Homo sapiens: one gene and its partner. The protein of the gene in region 1 interacts with the protein of each later gene in a pairwise test. Each region holds a gene or a part of one and is shown in the gene's direction. Other genes may lie near its edges. The genes, in order: DUSP13B and CALCOCO1.

Region 1 (2,877 bases):
CACCCAGGCTGGAGTATAGTAGTGCAATCTCCACTCACTGCAGCCTCAACCTCCCAGGCTCAGGTGATTCTCCCACCTCAGCCTCCCAAGTAGCTGGGACTACTGGCATATGCCACCATGCCTGGCTAATTTTTGCATTGTTTGTAGAGATAAGGTTTTGCCATGTTGCCCAGGCTGGTCTCGAACTCCTGAGCTCAATGAATCCTCCCGCCTTAGTCTCCCAAAGTGTTGGGATTATAGGCATAAGCCACAGTGCCTGGCCTGAAAAGGAGTCTATTTTTTGTTGTTGTTGTTGTTTTTTTGAGATGGAGTCTAGCTCTGTTGCCCAGGCTAGAGTGCAGTGGCATAATCTTGGCTCACTGCAACCTCCGCCTCCTGGGTTTAAGTGATTCTCCTGACTCAGTCTTCTGAGTAGCTGGGACTACAGGTGCCCACCACCATGCCTGGCTAATTTTTGTATTTTTAGTAGAGATGGGGTGTCACCATGTTGGCCAGGCTGGTCTCAAACTCCTGACCTCAAGTGATCTGCCCACCTCGGTCTCCCAAAGTGCTGGGATTATAGGCGTGAGCCACCGCACCCAGCCCGAAAAGGAGTCTTAAACTCCAACAGGAGGAGCCCCTTCACCCTGGGCCAATTTGCAGGCTCTTGTCTCTACCCTTGGTGGGTGGTGGGCGGGGGTGTTTGCAAACTTCAACCCAGCCAGAGCTGCCACAGTGAGATCTACCTCCACTCTCCTAACCCCTTGTGCCCTCTCCTCCAGGTACGCAGCCCGGGACAAGAGCAAGCTGATCCAGCTGGGAATCACCCACGTTGTGAATGCCGCTGCAGGCAAGTTCCAGGTGGACACAGGTGCCAAATTCTACCGTGGAATGTCCCTGGAGTACTATGGCATCGAGGCGGACGACAACCCCTTCTTCGACCTCAGTGTCTACTTTCTGCCTGTTGCTCGATACATCCGAGCTGCCCTCAGTGTTCCCCAAGGTGCACTTCTGGATCAGGCATGGTGGAGGGTGGAGGGTGTGCTTTAGGACTCTCCATTATTCCAGTAGCACTGGTGGGTGGGAGTCCAGAGAGACAAACCCTTTCAGTAACCCTCCCACTCCATAGGGAAAATAGCTACTACCATTCAGTGAGTGTCCCCTTCAGGGACACCCTGGAGGCTAGCAATTGCAGACATAACTAAGATGCAGTGTGGTCATCAGCATCACCACATCCCTCCATAAGAGGCCAGGCACTGGACAGAAGGTATAGGACCCAGTGAAGCTCTTGAGCGGGTTCCTCTAAGATGAGGCCTTGGCATAGAGCTGCAGGGGCAGTCGAGAGGGCAGAACTCGGGGGAAAGGGAGGTAGATGGACACCCCCTATAATCTGATGCAAACCCAGTGACCTCAGGAATTCAGTAAACCCCCTTCCCCTGGCCCAGAGTTGCAAAGGATGCCTGAGGAAGCACCTGGACTGGAAGAAGGAAATCCCGGCTGCTAACCTAAACCCTGCCTCTAACTTGCTATGTGACTTTGAGCCAGCCTCCTCTCTTTGGGCTTCAGTTGCCCCATTTGACAGAGTAGACAGTGTCAGTATTCCAGGATACTGTAGAGGATGGCCATGGGTGTCTCTTCTTCCCAAAGGGGTGGGTGGTTCAAGGGCAGGTAGCTGATGCTAAGTTGGTTCTCCCTACAGGCCGCGTGCTGGTACACTGTGCCATGGGGGTAAGCCGCTCTGCCACACTTGTCCTGGCCTTCCTCATGATCTGTGAGAACATGACGCTGGTAGAGGCCATCCAGACGGTGCAGGCCCACCGCAATATCTGCCCTAACTCAGGCTTCCTCCGGCAGCTCCAGGTTCTGGACAACCGACTGGGGCGGGAGACGGGGCGGTTCTGATCTGGCAGGCAGCCAGGATCCCTGACCCTTGGCCCAACCCCACCAGCCTGGCCCTGGGAACAGCAGGCTCTGCTGTTTCTAGTGACCCTGAGATGTAAACAGCAAGTGGGGGCTGAGGCAGAGGCAGGGATAGCTGGGTGGTGACCTCTTAGCGGGTGGATTTCCCTGACCCAATTCAGAGATTCTTTATGCAAAAGTGAGTTCAGTCCATCTCTATAATAAAATATTCATCGTCATAAAGACAGGTGATCTTTTGGTGGTCTGTGGGGCAAGGACTTACTCTCGGGATGGTCACAAGGTTCCAGATGGCTTGCCAACTCTGATTCAGTGGGATGGCAGCCTCGGGGAGGAGTACAGGTGGGAATAATTCGTGATATCTGCCTTGGGTGCAGGAGGAAGGTTTGGGGGTACAAGTGTGAGGATTAGATAACCTCGTCCTCATCTTGTCCTCCTCATCTTGTCCTCCTCATACCCTCACCCAATAGTTAGGTTGTCTGATAAAGACCCAAGTTCAATGCATCACCATTATCTCCATGCCCATCCTACCCAAGGCTAAATATCAAAATTCACTGTCCACTAGTAGCATCTCTTGAAACCAGTCAGTCTTTTCACTAGCACTCTGCTTTCAAACGGACTGCTTAAAATTAGACTCCTAACAAATTAAAGCATTAAACAAGAGGATGATGGGGTTGGGAAGGAGACATACCAGAAATACTAGGCAAAGGACAGTTATATGATGGAACAAAATAGCTCTGAGTTTCTTAGTTCTTATCTTGGCACAACATAAAATAAAACAATAAAGAAAGGCCCCCTCCCAGGTTCCTCACCTGTAAAATACATCATAAAAACCCAAGGTATTTATGGGGTTTAAATGGGCAGCTTTCCTCTACCTCTCTGGCTGCTGTTAGTGAGGTCTTGCCTCCTCTGTTTGTGTGTGTGTGTGTTTGGGTTTTCTGGTTGTTTTGAGACAGGGTCTCACTCTGTGGTCCAGGCTGG
Region 2 (7,300 bases), on another chromosome or scaffold:
GATGGAAAATTGGGAGAGAGGAGCCAAGGGAGTGGAGGTTTGAAAGAAGGTAGTGGGCTCAGAAACATTAAAAGTTAGGCACAAAGGACAAGGAAAAATAAACGAAAATAAATATAATGAGAATATATCCAACAGCGCTCAGCGGATAGAGAATCACGGGATTATCGCAGAATCAGGGACATAGAAACAGAAGGAACTTCAGAGGGCATCTAGTCCCCTGTCCTACCCAAAGAAGGAAAAATGGGGGAGTAAGGAAGAGGGAAAGGTAGAATTATGTGGTGAGAAGAGGGAAAGACCTGGGTTCAAATCTCACCTCTAACACTTACAAGCTGTTTGGCCTTGGGCAAATTACATAACCTCCCTGTGTCGGTTATCTTAACAGTAAAAGGGGATGCCTGGCTTATAGGGACATTACGAGGATTTAAAATGAAAGCTGCAGGCCAGGCGTGGTGGTGCATGCCTGTAGTCCCAGCTACTCACAAGGCTGAGGCAGGAGAATCTCTTGAACCCGGGAGGCAGAGGTTGCAACAAGCCAAGATCGCGCCACTGCACTCCAGCCTGGGCGATGGAGCAAGACTCTGTCTCAAGATAAAATAAAATAAAAAGTGTTACCACAGTGTCTGGTACATGGTACGCACTCACTACATGGTAACTAGCATTATTATGATTATGATAGAGGGGCAGTGGGTTTGGGAAAGAAAGGAAGGAGAGGGACAGGCAGAAAGGAGGGAGAAGAGTATGGCCTGTGGGAGGTGGAGAAGAGAAGAAACAGTATATGGAACACCGAGCAAGGGGCTGGGGCCAAGGACAGTGGATTATTGGGGTCCTGGGTCCATTCTTCTTCCCACAGCCAGCTACCTGCCCAAACCAGGAGCTCAGCTCTACCAGTTCCGATATGTGAACCGCCAGGGCCAGGTGTGTGGGCAGAGCCCCCCTTTCCAGTTCCGAGAGCCAAGGCCCATGGATGAACTGGTGACCCTGGAGGAGGCTGATGGGGGCTCTGACATCCTGCTGGTTGTCCCCAAGGCAACTGTGTTACAGGTGAGAAAAGAGCAACAGAGTTATTCCCAGACAAGGGAGTGGGAGACAGCATTGCAAGAGGACCCTTCCCACCTTACCCTCCCCTCATCTGTGGCGCCAACTAAAGACCTCGTTGAAAGTTAGACAAAGTCCTGCCTCCAGGAGAGTCTCAGTCTAACATAGACATACACGAACATGTAAGGCAGGAAAGGAGACCACCCACAGGCCAGTGTAACTCAGGATTTCATAAGAACTTTTGCAGCCTTCCTTCTCCATGCACTGCATCCTGCCCTATGCCCTAGAGGAAGATCAAAGGGTGGAGAGAGGCTACTCCAGGGAACATTCAGAGAAAGGGGAGCACAGGACCTGCTTCTAGGACGAGTGGGGAGTGAGAGCAGATAGGCAAGGCCCCAGACCTGTACTGTCCAATACCAAAGGCTCTTAACTATATATGGCTCTTGAGCACTTCAAATGCAATTAATCCAAACTGAGATGTACTATAAGGGTAAAATATACTCCAGATTTTGAAGACTTAGTATTTTTTAAAGAGAATGTAAAAGACTTCAATAATTTTTATTTTGACTACATGTTGAAATGATACTGTTTGGGGTTTTTTTGTTTGTTTTTTGGGTTTTTCTTTTCTTTTCTTTTCTTTTTTTTTTTTTTTTTTGAGACAGCCTTGCTCTGTCACCCAGGAAGATGTTTATATCTCACGTAAGTGAAAGATGTGTGAGCTCCTACTCTCTGTTGCGGTTTCACAATCGTGATTCTCATTTGAGCCTTACAACAATTCAGACTAAGGGATCATGTTACAGATGAGGACACAGAGACTTAGAGAAGTTAAGAAGCTTGTTCAAAATCACATAGCTAGCTGGGTGTAGTGGCATGCATCTGTAGTCCCAGCTACTGGGGGAGACACTGAGGTGGAAGGATGGCTTGAGGCCAGGAGTTTGAGGTATGGTATGCTATGGTTGCACCTATGGCTAGCCACTGCACTCCAGCCTGGGCAACACAGTGAGACCCTATCTTTAAAAAAAATCACATAGCTAGTAAAAATTGCACTGAAGATTTGAACCCAAGTCTGTCCAACTCCAGAGCAGATAGGGTAAAATTAGGGGACCCATCCCTTGTGTCTGTGTTCATTGACTTGTGCCACATGAGGGATTCCTGCAATTGCTGGATGAGGAAAGGGCCAGGCCTAGAGTGGGGAGGGGTAAGAGAGATGGGCAATTCAGAGTGCCATGAGCTGGTGCATCTGACTGGGTGGTGGACGGGATTCGGTAGCACACTGAGCATCCCCTTCCTCACCTCTTTATAACCCAAAGCTATGTAACTTCCCAAACCCAAAATGCACCTGGAGAGTGGTGAGGATGGGACCTTAGAAGGGGTACTCCACCAGCACACTCCCCTTCTCCTTCTGCTGCCTGTAGAACCAGCTCGATGAGAGCCAGCAAGAACGGAATGACCTGATGCAGCTGAAGCTACAGCTGGAGGGACAGGTGACAGAGCTGAGGAGCCGAGTGCAGGAGCTCGAGAGGGCTCTGGCAACTGCCAGGCAGGAGCACACGGAGCTGATGGAACAGTACAAGGTGGGAGCTGGGCCAGGTAGGGGACAGGGCCTGGCTGCTCACCCAGCATCCAAAATCTGAACCCAGTGAAGAGGGTGAAGGAGAGATGTTAGTGGGCTTTTACAATGGTTCTGGCATCAAGGAAATAGGTTTAAGGGGTAGTGGCTGGGATTAAACTTGATGTGACAAGAGACATGTTCCAAACGTGTAATGAGACTCAGTTCTTTGAACATAGGAATGCTGGGGTAAGGTGGAGGTGGCCACGTTGATAGGTAAGGGAATGTTCCCTTACAGTTTCTTTTTCAAGGAAGGCAATGTGATAGCCAGGTGGAAGCAGTCAGACCCTGGTGTGCTCTTCCTAAGCCTTTGTTCCACCACTTGAGAGATGAGTCCCAACCTCCCTTTTCTTCTGGGGGAAACTTAATTTCAGGGGATTTCCCGGTCCCATGGGGAGATCACAGAAGAGAGGGACATCCTGAGCCGGCAACAGGGAGACCATGTGGCACGCATCCTGGAGCTAGAGGATGACATCCAGACCATCAGTGAGAAAGTGCTGACGAAGGAAGTGGAGCTGGACAGGTGAGGGGAGTCCACTGACCCCGTCACTTCCTCTCCCTTCCATGACCCCCGCACTCCAGCCCCCTCTCTCAGGCAAGCAGACCTGCTGTCTGCCTCACACGCTTTCTCTTTCCCTCTCACCCTCACTCAAGCTAGTTACTGGGGATACCCTTTTCTGCCGAGCTCTCTACCATCTTTCCAAATGCTATTCTGTATTCCTCCACTTCAGAAATAATCATAGTTACCACTTATTGTACAGCAAAAGCTGAGCAAGAGCTAGGAGTGGAGGATTTGGAAGAAGAGAATGGATGGAAGTCAGTGCAAGATAAGAGAGGATGGATTTCAGATGTGGCCACAGGAAAGATAAGATTAGACTGTGTTCTTACTATTAAGAAACATTATAACTGGTGATCCAGGAATGTTATGGAATCTCTGCCCTGGAAAAAAAAGATGCAAATCATAAACTCTTAGCACTGGGATTGTAAGATATGTATGAGGGTATGTAAGAGGTCACCCTCAGGAGGCAGCCTCTTTAACATTTGACAGCTGTCATTTTTGTATCTCTTGTATTGAGCCAAACTCTCCTCTCCTATAACTTACCAGGGGGTCCTGAGACCTCTGGAGCCACACAGAATAAATTTCTTTCTTCTTCCAGAAAATTGTTTTCTCTACCAAGTAGCATAAATATTAACCACCACCTCCCATGTCCATCCTTCAAATTTTCACCAGTTTAAACACTCTAGTTCCTTATTTCATTAAATGACAAAATTATGTTTCATTTACTACTGGTAGGTGTGATATTTTAAAAAACTGTTTAAAAGAAAGAGGCATTCTATCCAAGGCCCAAAGTAATAAGTGAGTTCGTCTGAGAGGCTTCTTCAGGATATGTTAGTCTCACCCTAGGGAGATATTAGATGTCTACATTCTAAGTCATAGGTTAGAAAAGCAGTGGTCAGATTGAGCATCTGGAAAAGATTAGGGGCTATCTAGACCAGAGGTCAACAACTATGGCCCACAAGCCAAATCTAGCCTGCCACCTGTTGTATATCCCACAGGTAAGAATAGTTTTTACATCTTTTAATGGTTAAGAACAAATTAAAAGAAGAATATTTTGTGACATGTGAAAGTTGTATGAACTTCAAATCTGTGTTCAAGTTTTATTGAAACATCATGCTCATTCGTTTACATACTGTCAATGGATGGTCCTGCACTACAATGGCAGAGTTGAGTAGTTGCCACAGAGACCACATGGACTGCAAAGCATAAAATCTTTACTATCAGGCCCTTTACAGAAAGAGTCTGCCAACTTCTGGTCTAGATCAAAAGTTTATAATCAATAATGACTGCCCTTGTCTCAAAAAGACTAGATTCTAGTCTCTTGATTGAGTGAAAACAATGGGAGCCATCAGCAAAACATTCCTTAAAATATTACACAAAAAGATAAGAAAAACTATTTCTGTCTAAATTGTTCTCTAGAACCTGGAATCTTGGTTTCCTGGGGCTTAGAACTGGATCAGCTGGCTTGGGGATTTATGCATCCCAGAGTGAAATGGAGCTCTGGGCCTAGAGCAGCAGCAGCAGAGCACAAGACAGAGGCCTGAGTCCATTCCTTCTCTGGGTGGAGCAGATTGTCTGACATGTCATCCCACCAATCACAGGCTTAGAGACACAGTGAAGGCCCTGACTCGGGAACAAGAGAAGCTCCTTGGGCAACTGAAAGAAGTACAAGCAGACAAGGAGCAAAGTGAGGTAAGGGGCTCAGAGTTGATTTGCTTTCTCCATTGTCCAGCCAGTGTTTGATTCCCTCTCGAGAGCCAGACACCAAAGGGAATAAAAATGTAAAGAAGACATTGTGTGCACTCTACTAGGGAACATAAGACATATACCTAAATCAGGATTAGTCAGAGTGGAAAAGTGGAATATAAGAGTGTCACAAGAGAAATTTTTTTTGTTTGTTTTTTGGAGACAGAGTCTTACTTTGTCTCCTGTGCTGAAGTGCAGTGGTACGATCTTAGCTCAGTGCAACCTCTGCCTCCTGGGTTCAAGCAACTCTCACGTCTCAGTTACCTGAGCAGCGGGGATTACAGCCATGTGCCACCATGCCCAGCTAACTTTTGTATTTTTAGTAGAGACAGGGTTTCACCATGTTGGGCAGGCTGGTCTCGAACTCTTGACCTCAAGTGATCCACCCACCTCAGCTTCCCAAATTGCTGGGATTACAGGTGTGAGCCACTGCGCCTGGCCTCAAGAGAAATCTAATAAAGTATTGTGGAGCTCCAGGGAGGTGTATGAGTACACATCTTGTTAGAGACATTAGAAAAGTCTTTTTAAAATGGGTGTGGAGGCCAGGCACAGTGGCTCATGCCTGTAATCCCAGCACTTTGGGAGGCAGAGGCAGGCGGATCCCCTGAGGTCAGTTCAAGACCAGCCTGGCCAACATGGTGAAACCCCATCTCTACTAAAAATACAAAAATTAGCCAGGTGTGGTGTCAGGTGCCTGTAATCCCAGCTACTCAGGAGGCTGAGGCAGGAGAATCACTTGAACCCGGGAGGCAGAAATTGCAGTGAGCCTAGATCACACTACGGCTCTCCAGCCTGGGCAACAGAGTGAGACTCTGTGCCAAAAAAAAAAAAAAAAAAAAAAAAAGGGAGGGCCATGGCTGGGCGTGGTAGCTCACACCTGTGATCATAACACTTTGGGAGGCCAAGGCGAGAGGATTGTTCAAGCCCAGGGGTTCAAAACCAGCCTGGGCAACGTAGTGAGACCCCATCTCTACAAAAAATTTTAAAAATTAGCCAGGCATGGTGGCATGCACCTGTAGTCCCAGCTACTCAGGAAGCTGAGGTGGAAGGATTGCTTGAGCCCAGGAGGTCAAGGCTGCAGTGTGCTGTGATCGCACCCCTGAACTTCAGCCTGGGTGACAGAGCAAGATTCTGTCTCAGAAAAAAAAGGGGTGGGGTGTGGGGCCTAGTACTTTCAAACCTTTTTAGCAGAACCCTTTCCTCTCCTCCCACCAATAAAGTTTTTAATCTTGTGTGGAATCTCACTGAATAAACAAAAACAATGTTTTATTACTATAAATTTATTTTTATAAATTTGAATGTATAACCTTTACTTAAAAGGTAATGAAAGCACTTAGGTAATTTTGAGGCATACCAAACTTTGAAATGAGAGGCTATCGAAGACTGTTCTGCCAGCCTCAGCAACTAATGTATTTCCGTATTTTATTTTGGTTGTACAATATCAAGAACACCTTGAGTCACACACAAGTAGGTGCAAATAACAATTTTTAAACTGTCCACCTTGCAACTCAGTTTACTCTTCAATTCAATAGAAAATACAGTAGAAACTATTCTGAGCTTTGCAAAAAAATGAATTAACCTGGAAACATATGTCAATTGGTGATCTCCAGTGTGTTAACTTGTGATTTTATGGGTTTTATTTGTTTTGTTTGTTTGTTTTGAGACGGAGTTTCATCTTGTTGCCCAGGCTGGAGTGCAGTGGCGCGATCTCGGCTCACTGCAACTTCTGCCTTCCGGGTTCAAGAGATTCTTCTGTCTCAGCCTCCTGAGTAGCTGGGATTACAGGCACCCGCCACCACGCCCAGCTAATTTTTTGTATTTTTAGTAGAGATGGGGTTTCACCATGTTGGCCAGGCTGGTCTGGAACTTCTGACCTCAGGTGATCCGCCCACCTCGGCCTCCCAAATCATGCCGAGATTGCAGGCATGAGCCACTGCACCTGGCCTTGTGTTGTTTTTCTTTTTTTAACATAATTGTTAATAATTTAGAAGACATTCAAATCAAGTATCTGCAGAACTCCTAAATCCCTTCTTCAGTACCCTGGGTTTATGTGGAAGATTGTTAAAAAACCCTTTGCTCAGCAGTGAGAATAGGTAGAATATGAGTAGACAGAGATGAGTGTGAGGCTATTCTAGGAACAGAGAAAGACGTGAGCAAAGGCTTAAAGGCCAGAACACTCAGGGCAGTTGAATGTGCGGGTGAAGTGTTTGAGATAAGGCCTAGGTTAGACTGTGGTGGATCTTGAGCTTCATTTTTATTCCACAAGCGTGAAAGGCTTTGATGATTTTTCAAGCAGGGGTGACGTGTACTGTACTTATGGCCAGGTGTAGTGGCCCACGCCTGTAATCCCA

The links.
Region 2: the proteins of DUSP13B (region 1) and CALCOCO1 interact in binary tests that used the Homo sapiens proteins (3 or more experiments, as listed by UniProt).

What each region holds. Positions count from the first base shown.
Region 1 is NC_000010.11:75,093,680-75,096,556, reverse strand, and holds the end of DUSP13B (dual specificity protein phosphatase 13B), read left to right. Parts: intron 1-761; coding exon 762-982; intron 983-1,678; coding exon 1,679-1,881; 3' UTR 1,882-2,121; downstream 2,122-2,877. UniProt on the Homo sapiens protein: Dual specificity phosphatase that dephosphorylates MAPK8/JNK and MAPK14/p38, but not MAPK1/ERK2, in vitro. Exhibits intrinsic phosphatase activity towards both phospho-seryl/threonyl and -tyrosyl residues, with similar specific activities in vitro.
Region 2 is NC_000012.12:53,717,334-53,724,633, reverse strand, and holds part of CALCOCO1 (calcium-binding and coiled-coil domain-containing protein 1), read left to right. Parts: intron 1-850; coding exon 851-1,041; intron 1,042-2,450; coding exon 2,451-2,609; intron 2,610-3,018; coding exon 3,019-3,167; intron 3,168-4,804; coding exon 4,805-4,895; intron 4,896-7,300. UniProt on the Homo sapiens protein: Functions as a coactivator for aryl hydrocarbon and nuclear receptors (NR). Recruited to promoters through its contact with the N-terminal basic helix-loop-helix-Per-Arnt-Sim (PAS) domain of transcription factors or coactivators, such as NCOA2.